Homo sapiens: one gene and its partners. The protein of the gene in region 1 interacts with the protein of each later gene in a biochemical or structural test. Each region holds a gene or a part of one and is shown on either strand. Other genes may lie near its edges.

The links.
Region 2: the proteins of FN1 (region 1) and SERPINA5 form a complex in vitro, tested with the Homo sapiens proteins (one study listed by IntAct).
Region 3: the proteins of FN1 (region 1) and VEGFA form a complex in vitro, tested with the Homo sapiens proteins (one study listed by BioGRID).

What each region holds. Positions count from the first base shown.
Region 1 is NC_000002.12:215,433,020-215,440,531, reverse strand, and holds the start of FN1 (fibronectin isoform 1 precursor), read left to right. Parts: upstream 1-4,463; 5' UTR 4,464-4,729; coding exon 4,730-4,877; intron 4,878-5,707; coding exon 5,708-5,836; intron 5,837-7,070; coding exon 7,071-7,208; intron 7,209-7,512. UniProt on the Homo sapiens protein: Fibronectins bind cell surfaces and various compounds including collagen, fibrin, heparin, DNA, and actin. Fibronectins are involved in cell adhesion, cell motility, opsonization, wound healing, and maintenance of cell shape.
Region 2 is NC_000014.9:94,576,573-94,584,425, reverse strand, and holds the start of SERPINA5 (plasma serine protease inhibitor preproprotein), read right to left. Parts: upstream 3,001-7,853; 5' UTR 2,936-3,000; intron 2,812-2,935; 5' UTR 2,716-2,811; intron 1-2,715. UniProt on the Homo sapiens protein: Heparin-dependent serine protease inhibitor acting in body fluids and secretions. Inactivates serine proteases by binding irreversibly to their serine activation site. Involved in the regulation of intravascular and extravascular proteolytic activities.
Region 3 is NC_000006.12:43,773,211-43,780,210, reverse strand, and holds part of VEGFA (vascular endothelial growth factor A, long form), read right to left. Parts: intron 5,871-7,000; coding exon 5,819-5,870; intron 2,743-5,818; coding exon 2,546-2,742; intron 1,752-2,545; coding exon 1,675-1,751; intron 1,323-1,674; coding exon 1,293-1,322; intron 1-1,292.

The sequences.
Region 1 (7,512 bases):
ATGAAATGTTCTCCAAGACAGTTTTGGTTACATGTTCCAGCTACACAGTAGTTAGTTCCCATTTTACTGGATAAGTTAAACACCTTTGCCATGCCTGTTGGGAGTTACATCACTCTAATGAGAAAAGAATATTCCTGTTAAGAAGCAAAAAGCATAGATTAAGGCTTTTAAAAAGTGCTGATTAAAAAATAAAGTCACTTAAAATGTAAACAAAATGCCTATTAAGCGAAAACTGGTTAGCTTTCATGGCATAATTTAAAGCCCTTATCCAGTATTTTCTCCCTGGTTGCAGGCACCCTGTCAATTCTTGACAAACTTTTCAGACATTCTACTTACGAGGGCTGCCCGCAGGGAAGTTTATTTTTAACTTCTCACACCTGTGGTTAATGAGTAACATTTTTGTAAACGTGGCCATTTTCAAGGAAGAAGGGAAGCATTTTATGCCAAAAAAAAAAAAAAAATTCAAAATAAGAAAAAAAAAAAACTACCCTAATTTATCTCCCTCTAATCTACCTATAGAAGAAGATGAAATGAAAGTTCGAGCTCTCCAGAGTCAATGGCCTCCTCTCTAGCAGAACTGGAAGAAATTAATAACAGGATAAAAGCCAAAGGTTTCAGGAAAAACAGCCCATCAATTAAATGTTACACCTAAATGTAACATTTGAAATGTAACATCTAAATGTGACATATTTAAATGTAACCTTTAACATTTAACATTTCAATGTTAAATGTTAAATTTTTGAGACAGGATCTTGCTCTGTCATCTAGGCTGGGTCTGGAGTGCAGTGGTGTGATCACAGCTCCCTGCAGCTTTGATCTCTCGATCTTCTGGGCTCCAGTCATCCCCCAGGACTCATGTCAGACTCCTGAATAGCTGGGACGAGAGGTGCCTGTCACCATATCTGGTTATTATTATCATTATTATTAAGAGTGTCTCACTATATTGCCCAGGCTGGACTTGAACTCCTGGGCTTAAGTGACCCTTCCACACTGGCCTCCCAAAGTGCTGGGATTACAGGAATGAATCACCACACCTAGCCTGTTTTTATTTCAGTCCTTCTAAATGACTGGATCTGATCAATTATTTTTTGTGCTTAATCAAATGTCTCCATTGCTAATCTTCAAAACAAATGAAATCAATTTAATTCAGATTTCCATAATTGCTCATGCTCCTCCTTAACCTTCTGGAATAATAAAATTTCCCAATACCATTGCCCCCCGCCACCCACACCCCCCTAGTTCCCGAAAATATATGTGCTTCTTTTTGTTACAAAAAGTTTAAATTGCCTGAGGCTCTGGGAAAATTCTATCACTATGGCAATTCCAAGAAGAAACAAGGCACAGTCCTAAATGAAGATTTGTTCTGTCTCTACCACATATATGCCTTCACACAAATAGTAGGTTTCAGAAGGAGTTACTGGTGTAGAAGAAATCCACTACTATATTCAAGGCAAACTTCCTCTCAGAAAAATGAAGAAATGAGGACGCCTTGTGTATGTTGCTGCTACCTGAGAGCAAGTCTTTGAAACCAAAATCAGGAGATGGTTAAGAGTAAAAAAGAACAAATACTAATTTTTAAAATCAACTTTTGAAAAAAACAACTTTATTGAAGCATAATTTACATACCGTAAAATTCACTCATTTTGTGTATAATCCCCAGAATTTTGAAGCTTTTACCAAATTGTACAGTCATCACTGCAATGTAGTTTTAGAACACAGATTTCCATCACCTCAATAAGATTCCCTGTGCCCTTTTACAGTTAATTCCTGTTCCCAGCCCATAAACTTGGGTACCCATGAATCTACTTTCTGTCTCTATTGATTTCCCTTTTTTTGTCACATTTCTCTCTCTGAATACAGTTTTAGAAAGAAAGAAGGAAAGAAGGAAAAAGAAAGAAAGAAAGAAAGAAAGAAAGAAAGAAAGAAAGAAAGAAAAAGAAAGAAAGAAAGAAATCCAAGAGTATTTCCTACCAATAGGAGAATACAATTTACTGAGGAAGAACCCACCTGGATAAAATAGAATTCTTAAGGAAGTCCAACGATCCTGGACACCACACACGTTGGTTGAATTAGAGTCAGAGTGGTCTTTAAGATTTAATTATCTCTCCAATTAGAGATAACAGACTTAGAGTTACAAGGGACCTTGATAATTAAAGAATACTGTAGTAAGCCCTGTTATCTTAACTAAGAAACGCCTCTGTTTCTAAAGTTTAAAAAAAAAGGCAAAAAAAAAAAAAACCTTTCAAGTAAAAGAGTAAACTCCCAAGCATTCCTATAAAAATCAGTCAGATGTTATTTTTTTTCTTATGAGACAGAGATATCCTGTTTCCTTAAATAAATTAGATATCTATGGGATTGAAATATAAAAGTTTCTTCCAAAATGTAAGGTGGGCTTTCCACTTCAAGCTCCACTATGCATATGATTCTAGTGTATTTTCAGTGCAGTAAATATATCAAACTATCATGGTTTTGGTTGACCAAATACTTTTCTAATCACTTATTTCCTTCCCCCAGAATCAATGAATTTTAAGAAAGCTTTAGCTACAGGTTTATCTTGCTTACATCCGGATTTCCAGGTATCCTTCCCTCTGGAAGAAACACTCGGCTTCCCAGAAATTTACCAAGCATTTTACAAGGAGCTCTTTTATATTTGAAAAGAGAAAACTGTTTTGTCAAGTGATGAGAAATTCCAAAAAAATCCTCTAACCCAGACAGGATTCTAAATTTGGGGAAATCCATGGCACTCTTTCAATTTGGAGTGTGGGTCACAAAGATTCCTCAAGAGGTTTTTTTACACTATTTGTAGGAAACTGATATTTGCTGGGTGTTTTGCTTTGTTTTGGTTTGGTTTTAAATCCTTGCATGAATAAAAACAAATGCTAATTTTGTGTCTTTAATGTGTCAGGCATTTTATAGAACACAGAGTTCTAATTACTCCTGTGGCAATTACTGAAGGTGAAACTTTTGGAGAAAATAGGTACCTTGCCGAAATAAATATATTTTATTAGTAGCTTCTTGTGTTTTAAAGCAAATGGAACCTCTGAACTCCTAACACAAGGAGAAGGCAAAGCATTCAGTTCGGGTCTCTCTGGATCTACTGTGGAAGTGGTGGACTCCTCCTTCTGAAGATCTTTAAAAGCAATTGTGCCTGTGTTTATCTGACAAAAAGGACTGATGTGATGTGTTGCTAAATGAGAGACTTTTCAGATTCCCTTTCCACTCTGAGTTTAGAGTTCAAGGCGGGGGAATCTTAAAGGAGAACTTTCCACACTCTTGGAGTAAATAACAATTGAAATATAAAAAATCTGGCGGCGGGGGATGGAGGGGGCATTCTGTAATGGAACTTGTCAGCAAAAAGAAAATGGCAAATAAATGTGAGAAAGGGGCCGAAGGAGGGCAAGACAGTACATAGGGTGCCCCCCACCCACCCGGCTTTTAATGATTCAAGCAAAAAAATCTCTGCTTTGTGTGTAACTGGCACGGTGAACGTGGGAAAGGACACGAAGACCTTTCTCTCCCCACAGCTGGTCCAACTTTCCAATTTTCAGGTTGTTCACAGTGATTTCACTTTCAGTGGAAACGGGCGTCCCATCCCCAGGAAAGGAAGGCTTTCCTGCATGTGTAAAAAAGTAAACTGTTACTTTGTCCTTGCAAAAGAAAACTTCATTCTCTGAACTTCCCCGGGATCTGCAAAGCGCCCCGCGGAACTCCCGGTACTTAGTAGAAGCTCATTAAAGGTCTCTGTTCCCCTTTGCTCCCCGTTCGCCCGCTGGCCCTTTCTCAGAGCCAGACAGGCACAGCGCTGAGAAGGGAAGAAGTCCGAACAGGGAGCTGTGAAGACAAAATAAGGGAGTCCCGAGTCAGTACCCTTTAGTCCAAAGAAAGGGAGCGGGATGGGGGGAAAGGCAGCCCCGCCCTGGGACTGAAAAGTCTGGATTCTTAACAGCTGCAAGGTCGTGGATATTTTATGGGTTTTCTTCCTCACAAAATACACTCCTATAAGCAGAGATTCCCCCCCTCCACCCCGAAGAGAGGTGACGCAATGTCCTCAAACACTACCACCACCCCCAATAAAAAAGAAAAGGGAAGGGGGAGCGTCTTGCAACCCCTTCGCTTCACACAAGTCCAGCCACTCCCTTTCCTCCCAGCCGCTTCCCATCCCTTCCCCCATCCCCTAAAAAGTTTGATGACCGCAAAGGAAACCGAAAAAAAGTTGTCTTGCCCCAGTCCTGGCGGGCCATCAGCATCTCTTTTGTTCGCTGCGAACCCACAGTCCCCCGTGACGTCACCCGGAGCCCGGGCCAATCGGCGCGCGGTCGGCTGCGGCGGCCGGCGGGCGGGCGGGCGGGTGGGGTGGGGCGGGGCGGGGACAGCCCGGCGGGTCTCTCCTCCCCCGCGCCCCGGGCCTCCAGAGGGGCGGGAGGGGACCGTCCCATATAAGCCCCGGCTCCCGGCGCTCGGACGCCCGCGCCGGCTGTGCTGCACAGGGGGAGGAGAGGGAACCCCAGGCGCGAGCGGGAAGAGGGGACCTGCAGCCACAACTTCTCTGGTCCTCTGCATCCCTTCTGTCCCTCCACCCGTCCCCTTCCCCACCCTCTGGCCCCCACCTTCTTGGAGGCGACAACCCCCGGGAGGCATTAGAAGGGATTTTTCCCGCAGGTTGCGAAGGGAAGCAAACTTGGTGGCAACTTGCCTCCCGGTGCGGGCGTCTCTCCCCCACCGTCTCAACATGCTTAGGGGTCCGGGGCCCGGGCTGCTGCTGCTGGCCGTCCAGTGCCTGGGGACAGCGGTGCCCTCCACGGGAGCCTCGAAGAGCAAGAGGCAGGCTCAGCAAATGGTTCAGCCCCAGTCCCCGGTGGCTGTCAGTCAAAGCAAGCGTGAGTACTGACCGCGGGCTGAAACAGGCTGCCTCAGGGATGGGACCCTAAAGCCGACCAAAGTTGGGGCTGAAGTTTTGTGCGCGCGCGTGTGTGCGAGTGTGTGCGCGCTTTACTGAGAGAAACCAGCTGTGCACACAAAAGGACCGAGTTTTGAGCACGCTGGTTCTGAGGGCCTGGGATGATAAGACCGTGCATTGGAGGACGAGGACTCTGCGACTTTCCCGTGTTCTAATAAATTCTGCACGTTCAGATTGTCCTTCTAGGAATTAACCAAAACTTGCCTTTAAAGAGAAAAATGATGCATGTCTATAAATTTTCCGTCTGGGATTAGTGTGGTCCTTACTGCTACTTATTTCCTTCTGTTAAATAATTGGTCAAATATTTTCAACATGGGGGTGGAAAGGGGGTATTGAAATAGCTGTCTTGTTTCTAACTAACTTGGAAGAGATGTAATTGGTTCAGACCTCTTTAGGGCCGCTCAGGATACTTCACCAAGAACAGAGGTTGGAATTCTTTCCGTTTTTCAAAGACACACCCTCCTTTTGCTTTGAGAAAGCTGCTTAAAGTTGTCCTTTTTGACTATTACTCCAAAAGAATATTTAAGTTCCTTGCATGTTTTAAAAATGTGACTTCAATTGTCTGCCTTCCAAAATGTTTCCAACTTTTTTATGTAGACCCCTGGCCAGATGGAAATGACATCATTGTATATAACTTTTAGCAAAGTTAAAAGGAAAAAAATATGTACGTCAATATTCACATGAAGAAAATTCCATAATTTTGGGAAAAGGAGAAATGCAAATGTAACGTTTTCCTTCAATTATTTGCAGCCGGTTGTTATGACAATGGAAAACACTATCAGATAAATCAACAGTGGGAGCGGACCTACCTAGGCAATGCGTTGGTTTGTACTTGTTATGGAGGAAGCCGAGGTTTTAACTGCGAGAGTAAACCTGAAGGTAAGTGACAACAAGCCCCATAGTTAGTATCTTTTAATACATGAAGTGGTAATTGTTAAACTTTGCATTAGTAAGTAAAAATACATACACCATTTTTCTAATAGAATTACCTGTCATTTCCTCTTAAGTTTAAAAACTGCTTATATTTGCTTTTCACATGCTTTTACCTTTAAAACAAAGAAACGAATCTTTCCCAAATTAGTTCCTAGAGTCTTCTTTTTGCTTTACTCTCCCAAAGTTTTTGATGAGAAAAATGAAAGATTTTGTGTGTCCTCCGACAAAAAAAATTGCTTATAAAATTTTAATTTATTAGAAAGCAGTCTCAAATCTTAAACTGTTAGTTTATGAGCCAGAAAACACTTTGGGGACTTACATCGTAAAATGATTTGTCAGCGGCAGTTAACACAAAACCATTAGCCACTTCAAAGTTCTCATTCCTTTAGGACCAATGATATTTTTCTCATAAATTATAGCAACTCTGTCAGAGAAGCACTGATCAGGGGAAAATGGAAATCATAGGATTAACAACTGTCAAGGCCTTGTGGGAGGTGGGGATCTTCGAATTGTTTGTTTGTTTTTGTTTTGTTTTGTTTTTGAGACAGAGTCTTGCTCTGTCACCAGGCTGGAGTGCAGTAGCACTATCTCAGCTCACTGCAACCTCTGCCTCCAGGGTTCAAGCAATTCTCCTGCCTCAGCCTCCTGAGTAGCTGGGACTACAGGCACATGCCACCACACCCAGCTAATTTTCATATTTTTAGTAGAGACGGGGTTTCACCGTATTGGTCAGGGTGGTCTCGAATTCCTGACCTCAGGTGATCCACCCGCCTCAGCCTCCCAAAGTGCTGGGATTACAGGCGTGAGCCACTGTGCCCGGCCAATCGTTTGCTTTTTATGTGAACCTTGCTTTGACTTTCTGAGTCAGAGATTGGAATGTGAAACCCTTCACAAATCTAGCTCTGTCATAAGTTAGTACTTTATATGGCCTTTTCCTAAGAGCCTGAGATTTTTCTACAATATGAATAATTTACAGAAAATTTGACAATATGTCAAGGTCAAAAACCATGGCCTTATTAGAGCTTAGGATAAAAATCTGTATCTCTCACTTCATTTTATTCTTTGAGGTGTACCATGTTACTTGTGGAATAGAGAAGTGGGTTTTCCTTTAGAGGGGATTAGTGAACTAGAAAAGCTTGTACCTAAGTGAGGCTCACATGGACTTTCCTTTTCCCCTCAGCTGAAGAGACTTGCTTTGACAAGTACACTGGGAACACTTACCGAGTGGGTGACACTTATGAGCGTCCTAAAGACTCCATGATCTGGGACTGTACCTGCATCGGGGCTGGGCGAGGGAGAATAAGCTGTACCATCGCAAGTAAGGAAGAGATTGTGTAAAATGATGCCAAAATATCAAATATGAATTTCTCTGTTACCATCACTGTCATTTTCTGTTATCCATGACTGGATATTCCGAACTTTGAGGTTTGCCCCTGGTGACCAGGTACTCTTAAGTGGTCACCCAACTGGTTCCTGTGTTTCTTAAAGACGGGTATGAGCACAGATGGAATCAGTGTTTGATGTGTGTGCGTTTATGAGTGTGTGTGCATTTATGAGTGTGTGTGTTTCTGTACATAGTAGAACCAAGAGACCTCTTGGGTTCCATTTCAGTAAGACATGCT
Region 2 (7,853 bases), on another chromosome or scaffold:
AGAAATCTTGCTCCCTCTGGGCCAACTCTCTCTACTTTTCAGTAAAACCACTAATTATTAAAGACATACTAGACACTCCATAAATATTACTATGTTTAACCTTCACCAAAAGTAAGCTCTCTATTTTACAGAGTTTTCCAAAAGTAAACTCACTCTATTTTACAGATTGAATAGACTGAGGCTAAGTGAAGTGGAATAGCTTGTTTCAGCTACTGAGTGATGGAACCGGAATTAAAATCCAGGTTCCTCTGACTCGTGCACAGCCTGTCTCTGAGTGGCTCTGAGGAGTGATACCTCGTTCCTCCTCGACCTCACCTCCTGGTATCCCCAGGCGGTTCACCTGTATTAGCTCATTTATACTTCTCTACAACAACATGGAGTTAGTATCATTATCCTAACAGTGCAGAAGAAACAGAGGGTCAGAGAGGTCACTCAAGAGGCAGTGGAGTCCTCAGTGCTTGTTTTACGTTTCTTAGTTTCAAATCCAGGGTTTGCCATCGCACTCTTGGGCCTCTGGTGGAAATACATGGCTTTGACAGAGACAGGTGAAGCCCTGGGAGCCTCCCATCCCCCAGACCAGCCTCTACTGAGTGCTTTGAAAGCTTGGTTGGGCTGCCCCTCTCCTGGTCCCTGGCTTTAGTGTTTCTGCAGAGGGAAGAGAGAGGATCAGTCATGTTCACCTGTCATCTCAGGCCAAGGTGAATTGAGGTGGGAGGTGGTGGGGATGTGATGGGTAGGCCCTGGTCAGTCTTCCCGCTGGCCCACCACCATCCCCGAAACCCAAATCTGCTGACTGATATTTCCCGTGTTGGGCAGTGAAGTCCTGCCCAGTTCTACCCTGGACTCAGCTGTGGGAATTGTGTTAGTGAGGACGGTCTGTCCAATATCTTCTAATTACAAAAAGGGATGTGAGGCTTGGAGCCCAGGCAGAGATGAGAGACAAAGTCACAGCTTCCTCTAGATCCTAAAGACCCAGGAACAGAACTTCCCAGAAGAAGTAATCTTGACTTCCTGTTCCACTCCAGCCCATCAGCAAAGCTTGTCCGTTCTATCTCCAAAACAGGTCTTAAAGCTGCCGCCTTTCCCTGGCTTTCTTACTGCCCCCAGTGGAAGCTCCCTTCATCTCCCCCAGGGCTACCCCAGTAGCTTCCTTTCTTTGCCCTGAAAGGCTTTCTATATACAGCATATAAAAGAATCTCCTTCAATCATAAATATGGTCACAGCGCTTCCTCGCCTAAGAAACTCATGGCCAACTCCTGTGTTTCAGATAAATGCTAAACTTTGATTTGTGCTCTAACCCACTAGGGCTGCTGTGACCTGGCTGCACCTGGCCTGGACCTGCTCTGCCCTGGATCACGTGATACCCCCAGGCTCACTCTTCTTTTCCCAGTTTCTCAAACACAGCAAGTTCTGTCCTAACTCTGGGCCTTTGCATACCTTCCCTCTCTACTGGAACCCTCCCCCAACCTTTCTCACTGAGGCCAACTTCTGCATAGGCTGCAGGCTTTTGCTTAAATGTCACTTCTTTGCAATACCTTATCACACTGGACCTTTTCCCCTTCCATGGCTATTCTCTGGAACAGTCCCTTGACTCTTTCTCTCAAAGCTCTTTCAATTACACATGTGCCTTTATATATGCATTTGTCATTGACATTTTTCATTCCGGCCTCTCTCTCCATGGGACCCTCATTTGTGCTGCTCTCACCTTCAAGAGCTTGCAGTCAGGAGAGATGCTCCATAAACCTTTGTAGAATGAATGAATGAATGAACTGACCAGTCTCCTTCTCTGTAATTCAGAGACATTAGACTGCAAGCTGGACACTGAGCAGTGGAAAAAGCCAGGCTGGCCACCCAGAGCTGAGCTCTCCCCGCCCCGGAGCTCACTTGCCAGGTGACCTTGAACAACTCCCTCCCTGTCTCTCAGCTCTGGCTTCCTATTATTTCTTTATTAAAACCACTTGATTGAGACATGACTGCTATTCATAAAGTTGCACATATTTAATGTCTATAACCTGACAAGTTTGGAGATGAGTCTACATCTGTCACTTATCATCACCGTCAGCACCATGAACACGTCCGTTACCTTCAGGCATCTGCCGCCTGTATTCTTCATGCTTCGGTTTCCTGATCTATGAGCAAGGACACTGGCCCAAGGAAGCAGTTTGCTCTTTTATTGCTGCATATCTGGCCAAAAGCCCTACCTTCAGAAAAACTAAAAATTCTGCTTACTTTATTTCTACATTTTGTTCATTTAACAAACTGCCAAATTGTTACTGTCCTTCATGAGCAGCTGCCATGACCGGCCTGGGTGGCAGCCTCCAGGCAAGATGCCCTTATCTCACGGAAGCCGATAATATTGGATCATTGTTCCTGATTTCTAAAGGCCCAAGACTCCAGGCACAGAAAACAACAGAAGCTGCCACTTACTGAGCACCTCCTATCCAGCCGACATTTTGTCCCCATGGCCTTATTTCAGGGTCTCTCAACCTTGATCCTGTTGACCTTTTGAACAGGATGATGCTTTGTGATCTTGTCCTGGGCATTGTGGGATCATCAGCAGCATCGCTGGCCTCTAGATGTCACTAACCCCCACCCCCCTTCCAGTTGTGGCAACCAAATGTGTCTGCAGACATGGCCAGATGTGCTGAGTGAGAGCACCCGCTGTATTTAATCTTCAGTCACACCATCCAGAGGGTGTAATTATTTCCATCTTACCTATGAGGAAACGGAGGCTCTGCCAGAGTTAGTGTGGAGCATAAGGTCACAGAGCTCGGGGGACCCACTCACCTCTGCTGCCTTGGATACCTGAAACTGCAGAGATGAGACTCCTTCAGAGCTTTGCAGACCCCAAACCCCAAAACTCTAGAGTCCATCCTCTCCTCGCCTCACATGCCCTCAAGCCCTGGGGACCTCCCTTTGCGGCATCGGTACTTACTGTGTCCCGTAGCTGAGTGTGCACACAGTGGAGGTGGCAGTCCCTCGGGCTCAGAAAGGGCAGAGGGCTGGCTGGATTGCAGCCAGCATTTGTCACTGACCACAGCCGGCCCTGTCTCCACCCCTCCCTGGCCCCGCCCCGGGACAGCCCCTTCCTTTCCTGGCAGGTTTCCGGCCAGCAGGCCTGCCTGCAGACGCAGCTCCCTGATCCCGAGGCTTTCACCACGATGCCCACTCGCTGCCCCCCAAGCCTTACACCACCAGCTGGGCCATCATTTTCCTGGAATGGCATGGGCACTCCTGAGAGACAAGACCAAAGAGCCTCCCTATTGTTGGCATTCCAGAGACAGGGAAAGGGACAGCTCTAGCAAACCCTCTCTTTTTCCAGGTTCTATTCCTTGGTTTTCTGCAGCTAATTTCTTGTAGATTAGGGGGGGCATATGCTTGAACCTGAGAGCTCCCCACAGGCCTGCTATGCTGACTGGGTCATAGATCCCAACAGTTAGATTCTAGTGGAAATGAGAGGGATTGAGAGACTCACCATGCCTGCAATGAATGGGTCACTGTAGCCAAGCCTGTGATTGCACCAATCACTGAATTGGGGCTCAGAAGAATGAGGGGAATTTTCAAAGTCATGCATTTAATTAGGGGCAGAGTGGGGTTGGTGCATAAGTGGCTGACTCCCAGGCCAGTGCTTGTTGCTGAGAAAGGAGTGGATTCAGGATTTCTATGGGCTTGGGTAGATTCTCCCTTTCTACTTTGAAATCCTGGTTCCCTAACTCAGCCATACACTCTTAAGAGCATTTCCAAGACACCGGTGCAGAGTGCTGTCTCAAGCCTGGTTATGTTTCTAAGGTCCCCTTGCCTGGGGGACATGGTGTGTTGTGCATGGCCGTGATCATGGAAGGTTATGTGGCTGCAGGTGGGGTGTGGAGTTGGTAGAGCAAATCAGAGGTAATACCTGGAAAGTGATTTTGATGTTCAGCAAACACTGTCCATCGACAACCTTTAAGACATTTCCTCTTCCTTCTTCATGGCTTTGGGGCCCAATTATGTGGCTGTTGGATATCCACAGAAATAATAAGAACTAGTATTTATTCACACTTTTAAAAAGACCACCTACTACACCAAGTGCTTTAAACGCATTATCTTTTTTCATCCTTACAATAACCCTTCAAGGGAGACACTGATCTCAGCCCAGTCTAGAGATGAGCACTGGGTATCTAGAGCTAAGTCCAGCTACTACTACATCTCTAGAAGCAAGCACAATACCTACTGGGTATCTAGAGGAAACACAATCACTACTGGGTATCTAGAACCAGGCATGATCACTTCTGGGTATCCAGAAGCAGGCAGGATCACTACTGTAGGATATCCAGAAACAGGCGGGATTGCTACTGTAGGATATCCAGAAACAGGCAGGATCACTACTGTAGGATATCCAGAAACAGGTGGGATTGCTACTGTAGGATATCCAGAAACAGGCGGCAGGATCACTACTGGGTATCCAGAGGCAAGTCCCACTACTACTAGGTATTGAGACCTTAGTTTTTGCTCAGTGCCCTCACAGTTCATTCCCATTGAATTGGAGAGAAGACAGAACACAGCAGGTCAGGGAATCAGCCCCTAATCCCACAGTTAGTAAGAAGAGGCTCTAACAAGGGAACCTGAGTCCCTCTTTTTCTAGGTTTGGCTTTCTTCCCATTATGCCATGTAACATGAGCAAGAGTCCATTATCTCATTGACCTAGAGATCCCTAAACCGTACCTACAGGATGGAAATCAGCACTGCATACCAGTTATGGGTGAGTAATGGAACCCCGAAGTTATCCGTGTCCTAATACCCAGAACCTGTGAATGTTATCGTTCTATGACAAAAGGGACTTTGCAGATGTGATTAAGTTAAGGATCTTGAAGAGATTGTCATGGATTATCCAGCTGGGTCCTAATTACAATCACAAGGATCCTTGCAAGAAAGAGGCAGGAGATTGGAGTCAGAAGAAGGTGATGTGATGGTAGAAGCAGGAAGGGAAAAGTCAATGTGATGTCGGAGCCAGGTGCCAAGGAGTGAGGAAGCTTCTAGAAGCTGGAGAGGGAAAGGAATGGATCCTCCCCTAGAGCCTCCAGAAAGAGTGGAGCCCTGCCAATATCCTCATTCTAGCCCAGTGAGGCCTCTGGCCTCTTCAACCATGAAAGAAGAATTTTGTGTTGTCTGAGCCACTGTTTGTGATAACTTCTTAGAGCAGCCATCAGAAACTAGTGTAACACCGCCCAAATGGGTTCCAGATGAAACTACTTTGGGAAAGGTGGTTAGCCCACCTTTCCTGTGGGCCGTCTCCAGCCTGTGTGTGCTGTCTGTGCTCTGACCACCCACGAGGGAAAGACATCACATGCCGTTTCCCAAGCTTACATCTTAAGGAATGTCTTGAGAATTTGGGGGAAAGTCTGAGGTAACTCATGACTCCCACTGCCATGCAGAAAGAGCTCTGAAGGAATCAGGACTGAGGGTGGTGCGTTTTGAAAGGAGAGATTTGGAAGGAGTCTCGGGGGCATGGCACCCCAGTGTATCAGTCTTCTCTGGCTGCTGTAACAAAATACCTCACACTGGCCTGGCTTAAACACACACTGGATGTCTTAAACAATAGAAATGTATTTTCTTACAGTTCTGGACGCTGGAAATCCAAGGTCAAGGTGCCGTCAGGGTTGGTCTCTGGTGAGGGCTCTCTGGCACTTATAGATGGTTGCCTTCACTCTGTTCGCCCATGACCTCTTCCCTGTGAGCCCACACTGGACACACACACACACACACACACATACACACACACACACCCCCCAAGAGAGGGATTGGGCAGAGGAAGAGAGCGAGCTCTCTGATTACTCTTCCTCTTCTTAAAAGGGCACCAATCTTATCAGATTAGAGTGCCACCCTTATAACCTTATTTAACTTTAATTACCTCCCTAAAAGCCCAATCTCTACAGTCACACTGAGGGCTAAAACTTCAACATAAGAATTTGCGGGAGAAGCAATTCAGTCCATAACACCCAGGGTGACTGCCTAGGGAGGGCCAGTGGCTAGAATATGAGAATTTGGTGTCCTAGAGCCTAGCAGGGCATGGGAAAGGATCAAAGTGGGGAGGTGGTTTCTGGGAGAAGGGCAGGGAAACCAATGTTGGCCCCTGTGATGCCTTGCCCTGCTGAGCACAGGTGCTCCTCTGCTTGGCCCTCAGCCTCCCTGCCCTCTGTTCCATGGTATTGGGCCTCATGGGGATTGAGTGAGACCAGTTCAAGAGCCTACAAGATGTCACTCAGGGCCTGGCTGATGCTTCTGCTCTGAAGTGGGGCACTGGTCTTAATTACTAGTAGGGTGACCAACCATTCCAATTTGCTGGGACTGAGTAATTTCCGATGGTGTGGGATATTCAGTGCTAAAACTGGCAAAGACCTTGGCAAACTGGGATGAGTTGGCTACTCGAGTCATTAGGCTCTTGCCTTGTTCTGGGATCCAGCTTCTAGCTCCTGATCTAGGTCTTGTGTCTTAATAACTTTCCCATTTTTCTTATCTTCTCTTCTCAGTCTTTGTGGGGCTGTCAATCTTGCCTTAAACATCTGCTATGATCCTCCTGTAATCAGCCACCATGCTTCCCTCTGCCCATCATCTGTTTGCCTGCATGAGCTAAAGCATACTGGTACTACCTTTCTTCTACCATCCTTCCTTCCTTCCTTCCTTCCTTCCTTCCTTCCTTCCTTCCTTCCATCCATCCACCCATATATTCATCCATTCATCCATCCATCCATCCATCCATCCATCCATTCATCCATCCACCCATCCATCTATCCATTTTTCCATCCATCCATCTATCCATCCATCCATCCATCCATCCATCCATCCATCCATTTATCCATCCACCCATCCTTATAGCCTTCTATCCATCCTTCCTTCATTTCATCCCTCCAGTATCAATGTTTATTGAGATCTAACCATGTCCCAGAAAATACCCCTGGCCTCAAGAAGAGAGATCAATATCTCAATAGATGAACTAAAGATAGAGAGTCGATGCTCTGACACATGTCTCCACAATAAAGACACACAGGGAGGAATGGTCCATTCTCCCGTGGTTGGAGAGAGGAATGGAATAGGAAAAGCTTTGTGAAGGTGGTGACCTTGGATCTGGGTTTTTGAACCTTGTCTAGGTTTTTATCAGCCCTGGCTGGGTGGAGAGGAGTGAACAGACAGAATAGCTTACAGCACAGCAGTGGGAGGCTGCATTTTGGGCTGAGAGAACCACAGGAGTGATAGCAGTACAGGCTAAGGGGGTGGTGGGGCACCGGGAGCCCATCAGAGAGGAGGAAGGGAGGACAGAGAGAAGCCAGATCAGGGCCAGATGGAGGGCTTGGAAGTCCTGCTGGGTTGGGAACCAGGGTTGAACTTCATTCTGTAAGTAAAGGAGGGATAAATTATCTTGGGCTGTCACGGGTATGGTCACCTGGAGATCAAGACAGGACCAAGTGACACTGCTGTGATAATCCAAGCGAGAGATGATGGTGGTGTGGGCCAAGGAAGCGGGGGTGAGGCTGGAGAGGAGGAGACACATTAAGGAAGGAGAATGGACCTGGTGTGAGCTGAGGGGTAGGTTTTGGAAGCCTGTATGGAGGATGATGAGTTCAGTTTTGGACCTAGTGAGCCTGAAGGGCCTGTGGTGCCTGCTGGCAGAGATGACACAGGTGAATGGGTCTAAAGAGAGATTTGGAGGCAAGAACAGAGACAGGAAATAAAATGAAGGAAGCACATGGGATCAGGGGTGTCCTGGGGCAAGGAGAGGACAAGAGAAGAGGATGAAGCATAGAACGCTGAGACCCTCGGCATAAGCCTGAGCAGAGAGGGAGAGAGCTCACAAAGGTGATGATGGCTGGGAAGGAGGA
Region 3 (7,000 bases), on another chromosome or scaffold:
GACAGAACCTCTGGGAATCCCGGTGTGGGGGAAGCGGCTACCTTGGGAGCTGGCACGGAACCAAGAGCAACACCAGCCTGCTCAGCACGACCTGGACTGGGAGGCAGGGCTGGGTGTCCTGGAGCCCTGGGCAGGCAGCAGGATGGGGTGGGAGTTAAGGAGGTCTGGGGAGGAGAGGCTTGGGCGGTACTTGGCAGGGAGTTCTCTCCCCAGCCTGTCAAAGCCTGCTACACCATCTCACCAGACACTCTTCCGAGCCCAGGCGAGCCCCCTACTCTCCCCATGGCAGAGCAGTCATTTGGGGAAACAGGAAGGGGGGCAGGCTGTAGCCTGTCCCCTTCAAGAGAACCAGAGCTCTCCATGCCTGCCAAGCCCAAGAGAACACACCTCAGGATGTCTGTCACAGGGAAGAAAGGAGGGGGAGAAGGGACCAGAGAGGGCAAGTCTGTCCCCCTTAGGAGAAAGCACCAAAGGGTGGAAGGAAGGTTTCCGCATCCCCTCGCTCTGGAAGCTGGGAGCTGAGGGAAGAGGCAAGGGGTTGAGGCCTGGTGGGGGCTTCAATGTCCGCACAGCACTGGAGGCAGACAAGATGGTGTGGGGGAAAGGGCAGGGCACAGGTGCTCTCTCTCAGTCTCTCTTTCCCTGCAAGCTCTTGCTGATGCCAGCCGCCCACCCTGTCTTGAAGGGTTACTGCCGCCAGACCTTGTCCCCCACCCCATCCTACCTGCCCCTTAACACGGAGCACTCACAAGCCTCTGAAAATGACCAACATTCAACTTTTTCTCCCTGGCCAAGAGGGCTGTGTGTCTGCCGCCTGCCGCCTACAGGAGGGCATGCACTGAGAAACCACCCTCCAGCCGGCCTCGCATCCAACTGCACCGTCACAGCAGCCACCAAAAGAGGCCATTTCCTCTGACACACAAAAGCTGGCCTCTCTGCCACCCACTCCCTCTCCCCACTGTGGGTGTCCTAGAGCAAGCCAGTGAGCCAGTGTCCACAGTGCCCCCTGACACACCGAAACAGCAAGTCCTGGTCAGGAATGATCTGGAGACCCAGAAGGCATTGTCCCTTCCAAAGGAAGTGCCAGGCTCCTGGCTATGTTTTCTCACTAGCCCTAGAGCCATCATCCTGGAGTTGGCTCCATCCCATTGTTGCTGCCACCACAAGTCCCCCACAAGACCAAGTCCCTGACCCAGGGAGGCTATGGGAGCCCCCAACAGAGGTAGCCAAGAGCCCCAAACCAAGACAACCGGCCATGGAGAGGGAGAAGTGCTAAAGTCAGGGCCACTTACTTTTCTTGTCTTGCTCTATCTTTCTTTGGTCTGCAATGGGTAGGGAGAGAGAAAAGAGCAAAACAGGGAAGGGTTAAGATGGTGATGATAATGATAGGGATAACAACAATAATAATCACAGTAAAAACAGCATTTATTATGGAGCAACACTGTTTTAATCTTTTCATATATAACTTGTTTAATCATTATAACAATGCTATGAAGTATACTACTATTGTGCCCATTTTACAGATGTAGAAACTGAGGCACATTGAAGTAAAATGCCAAAGGTCACATAGCGGGAAGCTGGACGGGGGCCAAAAAGTACAGCATGCTTAACCCTGGCACAGATCAGGCACCCTGCAGCCACTTGCTGATAATGAATCCGTGACTACATCCTCACCTGCATTCACATTTGTTGTGCTGTAGGAAGCTCATCTCTCCTATGTGCTGGCCTTGGTGAGGTTTGATCCGCATAATCTGGAAAGGAAGGAAGCAGATCACAGAGGTTAGTGACCCAGCCAGCCATACCCAGATGGGACAACCCTGGGGCTCCTGCCACTCAGCACCCAGGGGTTCTGCAGAGCAGGGATGGGTGGTGGAGGCAGGGAGGACCAAGAGCTCTAGCAGGAAAGAGGCTCAGGCCCACCCCAACTCCCCCAACCCTGCTGGCCTCAAGGAGCCCTTGTTCCACTTGAGGCCAAGACATGGCTGCAAGGGTTGGCCAGGCTGGGAATTCAAATCCTAGGTTCTTACCACTCCCCATCCCCTCCCCTTCTTTCATCCTCTCTAGGCTTCACCCTGACTCCTAGTAGATACCCGAAAGCAACCCCCTCCCTGTGTTTCACAGCTCCCTCCCACCCTATCTGGGCTGAGATGTGCCCCATTACCAGGTAACACCAAAAGACTTTTTAAACTCTCCATGGACCAGGCTCATCCAGCTTCCCAAACAAAGCCCCCAAGAAGGGGGGGCACTCAGGACTCTCTCCAAGAGAGGGAGAGAGGGGCTCCTGACACAGGCATCCATCTGTCCCCTCCTGAGCCCATGGGCAACCATCAGGGAGAAGGAGATGGTTGGGGCTTGCTGGGAACCTGGGCTGGGAATGAAGCATCTTCTCCACAGAAGGCAAGACCCCACCATACCTCCCCTGTGCAACTCAGGGGCAGGAGCCAGACAAGGCAAATCTAGCCAGGAAACGACCTGGGACCACCTGTTCCCAAAGTGTTACCCCCCTCCCTATCCCCCCCTTGCCCCACTTCCCAAAGATGCCCACCTGCATGGTGATGTTGGACTCCTCAGTGGGCACACACTCCAGGCCCTCGTCATTGCAGCAGCCCCCGCATCGCATCAGGGGCACACAGGATGGCTTGAAGATGTACTCGATCTCATCAGGGTACTCCTGGAAGATGTCCACCAGGGTCTCGATTGGATGGCAGTAGCTGCGCTGATAGACATCCATGAACTTCACCACTGCATGAGAGGCGATGACACATGAGCCCGGTGGGCGACACAAAAGATGGCTAGCCCCTCTCTCCACCCAGCTCTGTAATGCCACTCTTTGGAGCTTCCGAATCAGGCAAGTCCTTCCAAAATCTAACGTAAGTCCCTCCTACTGTGTTTGAAGCACTTCCCTAAGCTTTCCACCATCAACACTGGTGAAGGCCTGTTTTCATTCCAGAGATCACACGATGTACTCAAGTTCCAAGGGACATGGCCTGCCACATCTGATCCCGCCACCTCACTGTGACAGCTGAACTGAATCCTGGGCCAACCTCGATGCCAGAGGACAGTCTGAGTATGGGTATACCCCATGGGGATGCTCTAAGCTTTCCCTAAAAGGAGGAAGAGCCAGCTTTGCCAAGCTAGTCTCCAGTTTCCTACGTCCTCCCCACAACCACTACCATAACGTCAACCATACCAACAGCTGTTTATTGAGCACTTACTACATCCTGAGTACTGTGTACAGTAGTCCACAGCTATCATTTCACACAAGTTTCTCCACATGGTACTATTAGACACTATTGAGATTCCATTTTACAGATGGGGAACAGGAGGCTCAAAGAGGCTAAGTAAGTTGCCCCAAGGCCGCACAGCTAGTAAGTAAAGGAGTCAGAATTAGCTGACATCAAAGTGTTCCCAAGCCTATATTAGGCAAAAACAGAGGAGGCACCTTTCAGGAGGAGGCACCTTTCCCCCTGCCAGTCCTCTTCCCCAGACATGAGCTGAGAAGGTGGTGGGCATCAGCACAGGGGCTGGGCCCTCCTGGAACCCACAGGTGGCAGTGGGCGGACACGCTGTGCCAGCCCTGCCAGCCACTGATAACCCCGCCCAAGAGGGCAAACTGCTTGCATCATGGAAAAAACAGTGCTGCCACTGTAGCCACGAAACATTTCTAGAAGCTGATCTGAAGGGAGACCAGGGTAGAGACAGTTTCCCAGGCTGGCCACGAAGCCTGGGGTGCACTGGAGCATGAAGGGGTAATTCTGGGCCACAGAGGCGGGGCCCTTGAGAATAAATAAATGCAGGACTCTGGCATGACTACTCCAAATTGTGGCCCAGCCTGCCACGCCTATCGCACCCCACCACCACTACCACATAGCAATCCTGTCCCTGAAATAGGTTCCCTACCCAGAGGGAAGAAATAACACCTGGCCAGTGAGGAGGCCCAGGCTCTGGCCATGAGTTGGTATGACCTTGGGCCAGTCCCTCCCCTCTCTAGGCCTCCAACTCTGCTCAACTGTGTAAGTGGGTTGGGCTGATCTCTAAAGATGCTGAAACAGGCTGAAAAAGGTGGTGTTTTGGCTTCCATTTCCAGCCCTAGGAACAAGTGCTCTTTTTTCAGCCTGGGTAATATGAAGTTTAGAACTTCACCAAAGCATCTTAAGTGTATGCTTCGTGGACTTCCACCCCAGCTCCCAACCCCCACCCCCCAGAGACCACAGCTGAGCCTCCCCCTCACTCCTCCCTCCAAGGTCTGCTTTCCAGAAGAATAAAGGACAATGAGGGGGGCTATGTACACAATAGGTTGATTGGGAAGAAGGTGGGGAGAAGGCCACAGGTGTGAAAACAGAAAGAACAGTGGGGAAACAGGCCAGTCCACTGCTTCCTGTGAGGTCTCTATTTCTTTTATCCAGACCACCAATGGGCACAGAATCCTTCTCTACCCACGAAGGGTTACGGCAAAGCATCATCAAAAAGAGTGAACGAGACTAGAAGTCTGAAAAGGTCATTTTTTAAAGCCAAGTCGATAGGGGAGAAGATGACTAATCAAGAAGTTTTGAACTGCCCCTTCATCACAATTGGGACAGAGGAGGGCCAGGCTTGTGGCCCAGGAGGGGATAGCAGGAAGGTCTGGCCTGGGCAAGGGGTTGGTAACTGAGGGTAAAAAGACCTGGGGTAGGAATTCCCCCAAAAAGCTTCCCCTTGGAATGAATCCCCAAGTCCCATGGGAGGTGGAGGCGGGGAACCTCACCCGCATCCTTCATCAGGCAGCCGCCCCTCCAAGGAGGGCTGGCCTCCACTGCCTGGGGGAGCACACACGTACACTCCAACAACCAGGCTTTCGTGGTTTTCCTTATTTATCGCAGACAACCTTTTCTCCAGCAAACAAAGACCTTTGTCCTGCCTCTCCCAGACCAGAGACCACTGGGAAGCTGGAAGGGGTAAGTGGCGCACTGGAAGCAGGGGGCCGGTCAGTGGCTGAGAAGCCAGGTCCTAGGCCAAGGAAAGGGCTCCTGGGGTGGGGAAGGAGGAGGCAGAACAGGCTGGGCATCACCACTGCTGGCCACTACCCAGCCACGCCAGATTTAGGTCAGGGAAACTCGCGGGAAGGAAGACCCCAGGGCCTTCCCTCCCCAGAGGTGGAGAGCACAGGCCACAGTCAGTGGTGGGGAGAGCCAGGGTGTCCCCAGAGAAATGGGAGGATCCAAACCACAACGGAACAAAAGGCAGGCGGACTCGGGGTTGGGCAGGGGGGCGGGGCGCCTGGGAGCTACAGCCAGCCCTCTGCTGGCCTGGGAGGGAAGTTCACAGCACCCGAACATAGTCAAATGGGGTTTTCTCCACCCCCAAAGGAATGCAAACCAGGGAAGGGAGGAGAGATCCCATTAGGCTGAGCCCTCTGTGCCTCCAGCTCACACAGGAAGGGTCACAGTTCCCACAAATGGGACATGTCTATATAGGAAATGACACTAAATGTCCACTCTCCCCTGGGAGCTAGGGGAAACAAGGGACACTTCCCCCAACACCTAGGATCCCTGAACACTGTCTTCCTGCTCTGTGCGCACGACTCCTTCTCCAAATAAAATTTTACTGGAAAGAGCAGAAGAAAAAGGCAACAAGTCCTACTTCTAGCAGAGACCTGAACAGCGGAGAGTCCTCACGAAACTGAGGGTGAACCTCGTGGTGCCCAGCTCTTTCTTTCTTGATCCTTATATTCCTGTGCCCCTTCCCCTTCCTCCCCACAGTTCTGAAGAAAAAGGAATTAGGCCATCCACCCATCCCCTGAGAGGACAGGGAACCCCATCCAACAGCCAGGGGGACTCACCTTCGTGATGATTCTGCCCTCCTCCTTCTGCCATGGGTGCAGCCTGGGACCACTGAGGACAGAAAGAGAGCAAGGCATGGGCATGGGCAGGGGCTGGGGTGCACAGGCCCAGCCACCCAGCCCCTCCTCCCTCCTCACTTCCCTCCCACCAACAGCCTCTGGCTTCTCCAAGTCTTCTGAGTCGAACAGGACACAACCGGGGGTCCCCACGGGCACAGAATATGCCCACCACTCCTGGACTGCTATGGTTATGAACCCGAGGAAGTTAAAGACTAACCAGATGTTGGGGGCTGGGGAGCTCGAAATGCAGGAGGAAAACCCCAGAATGCTTCACTGTCGAGGTCCCCTGTACCTTCCCCACACTTCCCTCTCCCTGCTCTCACTATCCCCCTAGTTCCCTGGTCCAAAGCCATGGTAAGTATTAAGGTCAAATAGGAGGACAAATTTGGACTGGGGCAGGAAGGAAGGACTAGGGGCGAGAAAAACAACATGGTGACCTTCTCCTGCTGACATGACAAATACCAGGGTGAGCTGGTGTTGGAGACGGAGGGGGGTGCCGAGGACCGAAGGGCACCAACCACCCTCCCCCATCCAAGCTCTTCTAGTCCTTAGGAATAACCCAGCATGCCCACAGGTTGCTTAGAGGGTAAAAACCCAGGAGGAGACCCTGGGGGAGAACCACATTTTCCTCTCTACACAAATCTCTCCAGAGCCTCAATAGATTTCCAAAGCCTCACCTGTCTCCCACTCCTACCTGTTCCCTGGTTTCTTCTCCCTCCCAGGGTGAGGAGGTGCCAAGCCCCTCTCACCTGGGCACCTTCAAATGCCACCAGGGACCAGGGAAGGCTTTTATGCCTTGGCACTGCCCAGCCCCTAGGGGGCCCCCTGCACCACCTTAGGCCTGAGGCCTCCTCTAACCCTCCCCACCCGCATCAGATCATTCCTCCCCTCGCCAGAAGCTGTGAAGGTCAACACGCCAAGACATGCGGACCTGACAGCACCCAAAAGGAAAGGCTTCTGCCAGCCCTTCCTGGGGGTCTCCAGCTCTCACCAACTCCCCTCCCGCCCAGCACTCGCAGAGCAGAGGGGCACTCTAGCCTACGGAACACCAGACCCTGCTAGGGGAGAGTCCCACTGTCCATCTTTCTTTCCCTCTCCTTCCCACACACCCCAAATGCACCC